Regions from separate parts of the Homo sapiens genome. Here region 1 is linked to region 2. Evidence: fine-mapped expression QTL. A gene starts in region 2. The other region holds a variant in brackets. All regions are shown on one strand. Distances are from middle to middle. Region 1 overlaps ABHD12 (abhydrolase domain containing 12, lysophospholipase). Region 2 holds the start of ABHD12 (abhydrolase domain containing 12, lysophospholipase).

Evidence for each region.
Region 1: its variant is fine-mapped to the expression of ABHD12 in whole blood (TOPMed, PIP above 0.99).

What each region holds. Positions count from the first base shown.
Region 1 is chr20:25,329,342-25,334,721 of GRCh38, forward strand. All of the region lies in intron 2 of ABHD12 (abhydrolase domain containing 12, lysophospholipase), which reads right to left. Among named protein-coding and RNA genes, the nearest start is that of ABHD12, 59 kb to the right of the region's middle. RefSeq lists an enhancer at 929-1,450. The variant C/T (reference allele first, on the strand shown) is at 2,262.
Region 2 is chr20:25,388,141-25,393,520 of GRCh38, forward strand. ABHD12 (abhydrolase domain containing 12, lysophospholipase) reads right to left here and starts at 2,695. Exons shown (of 13, transcript NM_001042472.3): 1 at 2,373-2,695. The coding sequence starts at 2,563. RefSeq lists silencers at 1,785-1,944, 2,115-2,274, 2,315-2,364, 2,405-2,824.

The sequences.
Region 1 (5,380 bases), 59 kb before region 2:
ATACAGGCCCCCGCACCATGGGCAAACAAGGCCCACAGGGCTGCTGGGACTGAGGCCTCTGGCTGCTCCTGCTTCCCCCAGTTTTCACTGTCCACCCCCCAGTTTTCATTGTCCACCCTCCAGTCACGTCATCATGTACCAGCAACCACAAACATCAACGGGCAGGATGGAGAATGGATCCTGCACACATGGGTGCCGTGGAGGGTGAAGAAGTGAGAATGTGAGTGAATGGAAAACGACCTGCTCTGTCATACTTCTTTTAGCTCACCTGCAAAATATTTGTTGCGGGAAAGGCTGAAACTTACTGAGCTGTGATGGTCTTTGAGTGCTGAGGGTCTGAACAGGGGGCTAAGTCTCATTCCAATCACTGTGAGTAACAGAGCAGCCTTGATACCGGCAGCCATAAGAGGTGTGGTGTCAAGGGAAAGCCTGGGTTGGTTATTTGGGTTTTATCAAATTCCAATTACCTGATGCAGGCTTACAGGACCTTCCGTATGAAAAAAGGGGATAAGAAAAGAAAGGTAACAGGAGTCAACAGGGACTGCTCAGGGGAAGGAAAAAGAGGAAGCTGGCCCTTTGCTTTAAAAACAAATGCATGGAATTGTGTTGAGGGAGGAGCCAAGATGGCCAAATAGGAACAGCTCCAGTCTACAGCTCCCAGCGTGAGCGACACAGAAGACGGGTGATTTCTGCATTTCCATCTGAGGTACCAGGTTCATCTCACTAGGGAGTGCCAGACAGTGGGCGCAGGTCAGTGGGTACGCGCACCGTGCGCAAGCCAAAGCAGGGCAAGGCATTGCCTCACTCGGGAAGCGCAAGGGGTCAGGGAGTTCCCTTTCCTAGTCAAAGAAAGTGGTGACAGACGGCACCTGGAAAATCGGGTCACTCCCACCCGAATACTGTGCTTTTCCGACTGGCTTAAAAAACGGCACAACAGGAGATTATATCCCGCACATGGCTCGGAGGGTCCTACGCCCACGGAGTCTCGCTGATTGCTAGCACAGCAGTCTGAGATCAAACTGCAAGGCAGCAGCGAGGCTTGGGGAGGGGCGCCCGCCATTGCCCAGGCTTGCTTAGGTAAACAAAGCAGCCAGGAAGCTCAAACTGGGTGGAGCCCACCACAGCTCAAGGAGGTCTGCCTGCCTCTGTAGGCTCCACCTCTGGGGGCAGGGCACAGACAAAGAAAAAGACAGCAGTAACCTCTGCAGACTTAAATGTCCCTGTCTGACAGCTCTGAAGAGAGCGGTGGTTCTCCCAGCACGCACCTGGAGATCTGAGAACGGGCAGAATGCCTCCTCAAGCGGGTCCCTGACCCCTGACCCCCGAGCAGCCTAACTGGGAGGCAACCCCCAGCAAGGGCAGACTGACACCTCACACGGCTGGGTACTCCAACAGACCTGCAGCTGAGGGTCCTGTCTGTTAGAAGGAAAACTAACAAACAGAAAGGACATCCACACCAAAAACCCATCTGTACATCACCATCATCAAAGACCAAAAGTAGATAAAACCACAAAGATGGGGAAAAAAAAGAGCAGAAAAACTGGAAACTCTATAAAGCAGAGCGCCTCTCCTCCTCCAAAGGAACGCAGTTCCTCACCAGCAACGGAACAAAGCTGGACGGAGAATGACTTTGACTAGCTGAGAGAAGAAGGCTTCAGACGATCAAATTACTCCAAGCTACGGGAGGACATTCAAACCAAAGGCAAAGAAGTTGAAAACTTGGAAAAAAATTTAGAAGAATGTATAACTAGAATAACCAATACAGAGAAGTGCTTAAAGGAGCTGATGGAGCTGAAAACCAAGGCTCGAGAACTACGTGAAGAATGCAGAAACCTCAGGAGCCAATGCGATCAACTGGAAGAAAGGGTATCAGTGATGGAAGATGAAATGAAGCAAGAAGGGAAGTTTAGAGAAAAAAGAATAAAAAGAAACGAGTAAAGCCTCCAAGAAATATGGGACTATGTGAAAAGACCAAATCTACGTCTGATTGGTGTACCTGAAAGTGACGGGGAGAATGGAACCAAGTTGGAAAACACTCTGCAGGATATTACCCAGGAGAACTTCCCCAATCTAGCAAGGCAGGCCAACATTCAGATTCAGGAAATACAGAGAACGCCACAAAGATACTCCTCGAGAAGAGCAACACCAAGACACATAATTGTCAGATTCACGAAAGTTGAAATGAAGGAAAAAATGTTAAGGGCAGCAAGAGAGAAAGGTCAGGTTACCCTCAAAGGGAAGCCCATCAGACTAAAAGCAGA[C/T]CTCTCGGCAGAAACTCTACAAGCCAGAAGAGAGTGGGGGCCAATATTCAACATTCTTAAAGAAAAGAATTTTCAACCCAGAATTTCACATCCAGCCAAACTAAGCTTCATAAGTGAAGGAAAAATAAAATACTTTACAGACAAGCAAATGCTGAGAGATTGTGTCACCACCAGGCCTGCCCTAAAAGACCTCCTGAAGGATGCGCTAAACATGGAAAGGAAAAACCGGTACCAGCCACTGCAAAATCATGCCAAAATGTAAAGACCATCGAGACTAGGAAGAAACTGCATCAACTAATGAGCAAAATAACCAGCTAACATCATAATGACAGGATCAAATTCACATATAACAATATTAACTTTGAATGTAAATGGACTAAATGCTCCAATTAAAAGACACAGACTGGCAAATTGGATAAAGAGTCAAGACCCATCAGTGTGCTGTATTCAGGAAACCCATCTCACGTGCAGAGACACACATAGGTTCAAAATAAAAGGATGGAGGAAGATCTACCAAGCAAATGGAAAACAAAAAAAGGCAGGGGTTGCAATCCTAGTCTCTGATAAAACAGACTTTAAACCAACAAAGATCAAAAGAGACAAAGAAGGCCATTACTTAATGGTAAAGGGATCAATTCAACAAGAAGAGCTAACTATCCTAAATATATATGCACCCAATACAGGAGCACCCAGATTCATAAAGCAAGTCCTGAGTGACCTACAAAGAGACTTAGACTCCCACACATTAATAATGGGAGACTTTAACAACCCACTGTCAACATTAGACAGATCAACGAGACAGAAAGTCAACAAGGATACCCAGGAATTGAACTCAGCTCTGCACCAAGAAGACCTAATAGACATCTACAGAACTCTCCACCCCAAATCAACAGAATATACATTTTTTTCAGCACCACACCACACCTATTCCAAAATTGACCACATCCTTGGAAGTAAAGCTCTCCTCAGCAAATGTAAAAGAACAGAAATTATAATAAACTATCTCTCAGACCACAGTGCAATCAAACTAGAACTCAGGATTAAGAAACTCACTCAAAACAGCTCAACTACATGGAAACTGAACAACCTGCTCCTGAATGACTACTGGGTACATAACAAAATGAAGGCAGAAATAAAGATGTTCTTTGAAACCAACGAGAACAAAGACACAACATACCAGAATCTCTGGGACACATTCAAAGCAGTGTGTAGAGGGAAATTTATAGCACTAAATACCCACAAGAGAAAGCAGGAAAGATCCAAAATTGACACCCTAACATCACAATTAAAAGAACTAGAAAAGCAAGAGCAAACACATTCAAAAGCTAGCAGAAGGCAAGAAATAACTAAAATCAGAGCAGAACTGCAGGAAATAGAGACACAAACAACCCTTCAAAAAATTAATGAATCCAGGAGCTGGTTTTTCGAAAGGATCAACAAAATTGATAGACCACTAGCAAGACTAATAAAGAAGAAAAGAGAGAAGAATCAAATAGACGCAATAAAAAACGATAAAGGGGATATCACCACTGATCCCACAGAAATACAAACTACCATCAGAGAACATTACAAACACCTCTATGAAAATAAACTAGAAAATCTAGAAGAAATGGATATATTCCTCGACACATACACCCTCCGAAGACTAAACCAGGAAGAAATTCAATCTCTGAATAGACCAATAACAGGAGCTGAAATTGTGGCAATAATCAATAGCTTACCAACCTAACAGAGTCCAGGACCAGATGGATTCACAGCTGAATTCTACCAGAGGTACAAGGAGGAACTGGTACCATTCCTTCTGAAACTATTCCAATCAACAGAAAAAGAGGGAATCCTCCCTAACTCATTTTATGAGGCCAGCATCATCCTGATACCAAAGCCGGGCAGAGACACAACCAAAAAAGAGAATTTTAGACCAATATCCTTGATGAACATTGATGCAAAAATCCTCAATAAAATACTGGCAAACCTAATCCAGCAGCACATCAAAAAGCATATCCACCATGATCAAGTGGGTTTCATCCCTGGGATGCAAGGTTGGTTCAATATACGCAAATCAATAAATGTAATCCAGCATATAAACAGAACCAAAGACAAAAACCACATGATTATCTCAATAGATGCAGAAAAGGCCTCTGACAAAATTCAACAACCCTTCATGCTAAAAACTCTCAATAAATTCGGTATTGATGGGACACATCTCAAAATAATAAGAGCTATCTATGACAAACCCACAGCCAATATCATACTGAATGGGCAAAAACTGGAAGCATTCCCTTTGAAAACTGGCAGAAGACAGGGATGCCCTCTCTCACCACTCATATTCAACACAGTGTTGGAAGTGCTGGCCGGGGCAATTAGGCAGGAGAAGGAAATAAAGGGTATTCAATTAGGAAAAGAGGAAGTCAAATTGTCCCTGTTTGCAGATGACATGATGGTATATCTAGAAAACCCCATTGTCTCAGCCCAAAATCTCCTTAAGCTGATAAGCAACTTCAGCAAAGTCTCAGGATACAAAATCAATGTACAAAAATCACAAGCATTCTTATACACCAACAACAGACAGAGAGCCAAATCATGAGTGAACTCCCATTCACAATTGCTTCAAAGAGAATAAAATACTTAGGAATCCAACTTACAAGGGATGTGAAGGACCTCTTCAAGGAGAACTACAAACCACTACTCAAGGAAATAAAAGAGGATACAAACAAATGGAAGAACATTCCATGCTCATGGGTAGGAAGAATCAATATCGTGAAAATGGCCATACTGCCCAAGGTAATTTACAGATTCAATGCCATCCCCATCAAGCTACCAATGACTTTCTTCACAGAATTGGAAAAAACTACTTTAAAGTTCATACGGAACCAAAAAAGAGCCTGCATCGCCAAGTCAATCCTAAGCCAAAAGAACAAAGCTGGAGGCATCACACTACCTGGTTTCAAACTATACTACAAGGCTACAGTAACCAAAACAGCATGGTACTGGTACCAAAACAGAGATATAGATCAATGGAACAGAACAGAGCCCTCAGAAATAACACCGCATATCTGCAACTATCTGATCTTTGACAAACCTGAGAAAAACAAGCAATGGGGAAAGGATTCCCTATTTAA
Region 2 (5,380 bases):
TGGACACATGAAGAAGGCTCATTAGATTGTCTTCTCTACTTCCACGTATGTCGACAATAAAGAGTTTAAAAAATGTGCGGAAGGATCCAAAGAAGGATCATAAAAGACACAAACGAGCCGGCTCTGTGGCGCAATGGATATCTGTTCTATGGATATTTGTTCATTCAACAAGTATTTTCTGCTACCTACTACGTGCCAGGTACTGGAGATACTTAAGTGGAGAAAACAAAGCTCCTGTTCTCATGGCGCTTCCATTCTGGTTGCGGGGGAGGCACACGAGCAAAAATTACAATCTCGAGTGATAACAAGGTCGACAGGAGTGGGCTGGTCTAAGAAGGCCTCAGTGAGGAGGAGGTGATGGTGGCGCAGAGCCTGAGCGAGGAAGAGAAGAAAGCTCAAGGATGTCTGAGACAGCCAGCTGGGAAGGAAGACAACCTAACAAATTTGGTCTTCTTTCCCTTTGTTTTGCTTTTTACCCCTAACAGCCTTTTGCTTATCCAAAGGATATGGACACCACTGGAATGTCTCTCTTTGTCCTGACACGAAAATAAAAATTAATCGGGTAATTTTAATACAGTACATTCTTCAAGAAGGTGCCAGGTCGCCGCTGTTTCCCCAAACGTTGTGTAAAACAATTTGATTTTTTCTTTTTTTTTTTTTTTTTTGAGACGGAGTTCCGTTCTTGTTGTCCAGGCTGGAGTGCACTGGTGCGATCTCGGTTCGGCGAGATCTTGGCTCACCGCAACCTCCGCCTCCCAGATTCAAGCGATTCTCCCGCCTCAGCCTCCCGAGTAGCTGGGATTACAGGCATATGCGCCACCACGCCCGGCTAATTTTGTATTTTTAGTACAGACGGGGTTTCTCCATGTTGGTCAAGCTGGTCTCGAACTCCTGACCTCTGATAATCTGCCCGCCTCGGTCTCCCAGAGTGCTGGCATTACAGGCGTGAGCCACCGCGCCCGGCAATTTGATTTTTTCGAAGGAAGAATTTTCCAATTTATCTAAGCGTTATGCCATGTCTGTTAATAAAATTGTATTAAAGTTAAATCATGAGTTTTTAATGCAGATAAATCTTTCCATAGCAAAGAGAACAGATTAGTTTCACAAAAGATATTGATCAGATGCTACATAATTTTACACATAAAGACACAAAACTATCAGTCTCCGCCCTTCTGTCAAACCATCGACTTAGAAGTGTCTATAGTTTAATTTCATGATTTTTTTAAGCAATGAAGTTGAAATTCTACTTTTCCTTAGGAGCGATACGCATATTTTACACTCAAGTGGCCAGCGTCAACTAAGGGCATTCCAGATGGTCAAAAAAGAAGTGCCTCTGCTACAACGCCTGAGATCATCATATAGTAACTTCTTCAAACCACCACGAAGTAGCAAGGCTTCAAAGCTGTCAGGAATGCTACGTTCTACAACAGCCAGATAATTAGGAAACCAGCAGATGGGAGGAGAAATCTGTCCCTATGAAACACGTTCCCATCTCAGTTTTGAAAGTGGCTTTATATAAACGCATTCATCTTCTACCCAATAACCCAAAGGTTATTGAACGCCAATAACCAAACGACTCAGGACTGCGAGATGATTCCCAAGGAGGCGAACTTGTGCGGACAGATTTCAAGTACCACGAACCATCACCAGCAGAGCGAAGGGCAGGTTTCCCTCCGACGGCTGCGATGCTCCGAGTCCCTCCTTCCCCTAGCACCCCGCCGCCCACTGAGCCCTTCCCCAAAGGTCCCCGAGTTCTGAGCGACGCACGCCCCCGACCCTAGTTACCGGGGAGAGCCGCCGAGGGCCCAAGGCGCCAGTAAGGCTCCGCGCACGCAGCCCAGCCCGAGGGGCGCCCGCCCGGGCGCTCGGTGTGGGGCCTGATGCAGAGCAGGAGGAGGAGGTCCGAGTGGGCCCCAGCGCTCTCAGGGTCTGGCGCCGGCCCCTCTGCCTCCCGCCTCTGCTGTGCCTGGCGTCCAGGGATCTTCCAAGGACTCCCCACCCCCTACCCTGCTCTCCCACGCGGGGTCATGACTTCGGGCGGCGCCAAGCCCCCAGCGTAAGGGTCCCCCCGGCTTCCCCGGGAAAGGGTCGGGGTGCAAGGCTAGGCCAGGAGTGCCTGGCGAGAGGGCCGGAGCAGGACACAGGGGGTCAGCGGCAGGGCAGGGCGCTCCCGCCGCGGTGCCTGGGGAAGGGAGCGGGGGTGGGGCTGCCGCGGGCCAAATGCGGGACACAGGCGCGGACGGGGGCGGCCGCGGATCGGGCGGACGGCCACTCTGGGAGGGGCTGGGAGGTACCGCGGCCCCCTGCGGGACGCACCTGCGCAAAGTGAGGGACCGGCCCCCCCCCCCCCCCCGCTCCGCGCGAAGCCTCACCTGCCCAGCGCCCGCTTCATTCCCGCGTCGGCTGCGCAGCGCGGCTCAGCCGCCGCCGGGCCCGTCAGGCGTAGGTTCTGCTTCAGGCGGCAGTCGGCGTCCAGCGCCGCGGCGGCCGAGCCGGAGGAGGACGAGCCCGCGGCGGCGCAGCGCTCATGCTCCAAGGCGACGGGCTCGGTCCGCTTCCTCATCCCGCGGCCGACAGGGCCAGCCGCCGACGGCGCCCGCTGGCCTGCGCCGCAGTGCCGCCGCTCACAGCCGCCGCCACCCAGAGCCCGGAGCCCGGAACCCGCCGCTCCTCACATCCCAGCCCAGGCCGCTGCGCCGGCTACGAACCAGCGGCGGGGGCCCGCCAGCCAGGCCGGCCAATCAGCGCCGGGCTCCCGCCGGCTCTGCCCTACCCCCCTCCCCCGGCCCCGCCCCGGCCACCTCCTCTCTAGTTCCAAGGAGCGCGCGCCCAGCATCCCTGGCGCCACCCGCAGCCATTTTGTGGGAGGGTGGGCGAAGCTGCAGCGGCGCGTCATCTGCAGGGCAGGGCTCTGGGCTCCATCCGCAGGCTGCAGCTGTGCTCGCCCGGGCGCTCGGTGTGAGGAGCACCCGCTCCCGGTCGTGCCCGAAAGGGGTGGCCCAGCGAGGCAGAGCCGCAGCGCTGGGCTCCTCGTGCTTCTGTGAACGGAAAACCAGAGGTAGCAAATAGCAGTTCCGTTCTCGTGATTCTTAATTCTTTTTCCACAAGGACATTACCTTTAAAAGTATGCTTTCCGGTCGTCAGTTTTTAATTTGAAGTAAATGTATATACTCAGTGTTTACTTTTGGGCCGAACATCAGGAAATGAACTGCTTGAAAAATTTACTTTTTAAAAACCTGTGTTAGATTTTAGATTTTTATAAAGCAATTAAGACTACCTGATGGGAGGAAAATCCATTTCAAAGATAAATTCGCCCTTATGAAACCCAAATTTAGTACTAATTCAACCCATCCTAGAAAGAGAAAAGGAAAGAATAAAGGGCTGTTTCACAAATTTAGTTTTATAACTTTGGCTTTCTTCAATATGGCATTAGTTTTACAGATGATCTATAACAAAGAGAGATATTTGCTTATTCCAAAGTAACGTTAGAAATTTCAGCATTTGTCACTTTGAAAACTATTGGCAATTGATAAAGGTCAATTGGAAATGCGTTTAGAAATTCAACAGCTTTTTATATTAGTTTTTTCTTTTTTTTTTTTTTTTTTTTTGAGACGGAGTCTCGCTCTCGCCCAGGCTGGAGTGCAGTGGCGCGATCTCGGCTCACTGCAAACTCCGCCTCCCAGGTTCACGCCAGTCTCCTGCCTCAGCCTCCCAAGTAGCTGGGACTACAGGCGCCGGCTACCATGCCCGGCTAATTTTTTTGTATTTTTAGTAGAGACAGGGTTTCACTGTGTAGCCAGGATGGTCTCGATCTCTCGATCCCGTGATCCGCCCGCCTCGGCCTCCCAAAGTGCTGGGATTACAGGCATGAGCCACCGCGCCCGGCTGCTTTTTAAATTAGTTTTGTAATGATACTTTGAAATTGCAAAATAATTTATTGACCATATTACTAAGTGTTACAGCCTGCATTCATAATTGTGTCAATATCTCCAGATATACTTTTTAAAAACATTATGGGCCGAGCTCAGTGGCTCATGCCTGTAATCTCAGCACTTTGGGAGGCGGAGGTGGGTGGATCATTTAAGCACAGGAGATGGAGGCCAGATCAGCCTGGCCAGCATGGTGAAACTCCGTCTCTACTAAAAATACAAAAATTAGCCGGGTGTGGTGGCACAAGCCTGGGTGACAGAGCAAGACTCTGTTTAAAAAAAAAAAAAAAAAAAAGGCTGGGCGAGGTGTCTCACGCCTGTGAGCCCAGCACTTTGGGAGGCCGAGGCGGGCGGATCACGAGGTCAGGAGATTGAGGCTATCCTGGCCAATGTAGTGAAACCCCGTCTCTACTAAAAACACAAAAATTAGCCAGGTATGGTGGCACAACCCTATAATCCCAGCTAATTGGGAGGCTGAGGCAGGAGAATCGCTTGAACTTGGGAGGCGGAGGTTGCAGTGAGCTGAGATCACACCATTGCACCCCAGTCTTGGGGACAAAAGCAAACTTCTGTCTCAAAAAAAAAAAAAAAAATTAGCTGGGCATGGTGGCGCGTGCCTGTATTCCCAGCTACTTGGGAAGCTGAGGCAGGAGAATCGCTTGAACCAGGGAGTCGGAGGTTGTGGTGAGCCGAAATTGTGCCACTGCACTCCAGCCTGGCGACAGAGGGAGACTCCTCTCAAAAACAAACAAACAAAAAAATTAGCTGGGTGTGGTGGCGCACGCCTGTAATCCCATCTACTTGGGAGGCTGAGGCAGGAGAATTGCTTGAACCCGGGATGCTGGGATTCGGAGGTTGCAGTGAGCCGAGATTGCACCACTGCACTCTAGCCTGGGTGACAGAGCAGGACTCCATCTCAAAATAAACAAACAAACATACTATGGAATGTAAATTATAAATTCTTTATAGTGATGTAGTAACACATCCTGGAGAGATTGGAAATCTAGGAAATAACTAAAACGTAAAAAAAAAAAAAGAGGTTTTGACTCTATCGCTCACTTCAATTAAAAAAACAACAACAACAAAAAAAAAACAGCCAGGCGCGGTGGCTCATGCCTGTAATCCCAGCACATTGGGAGGCCGAGGCGGGCGGATCACAAGGTCAGGAGATCATGACCATCCTGGCTAACACGGTTTCACACCCCGTCTCTCTAATAACAATATAAAAAATTAGCCGGGCATGGTGGCGGGCGCCTGTAGTCCCAGCTACTTGGGAGGCTGAAGCAGGAGAATGGCGTGAACCCGGGAGGCGGAGCTTGCAGTGAGCGGAGATCGCACCACTGCACTCCATCCTGGGCGACAGAGTGAGACTCCGACTCAAAAAAACCAAACAAACAAACCAAAAAAAAAAAAAAAAAAAAACAAGGAAGGAAGAGCTGGAGAGGAAAAAT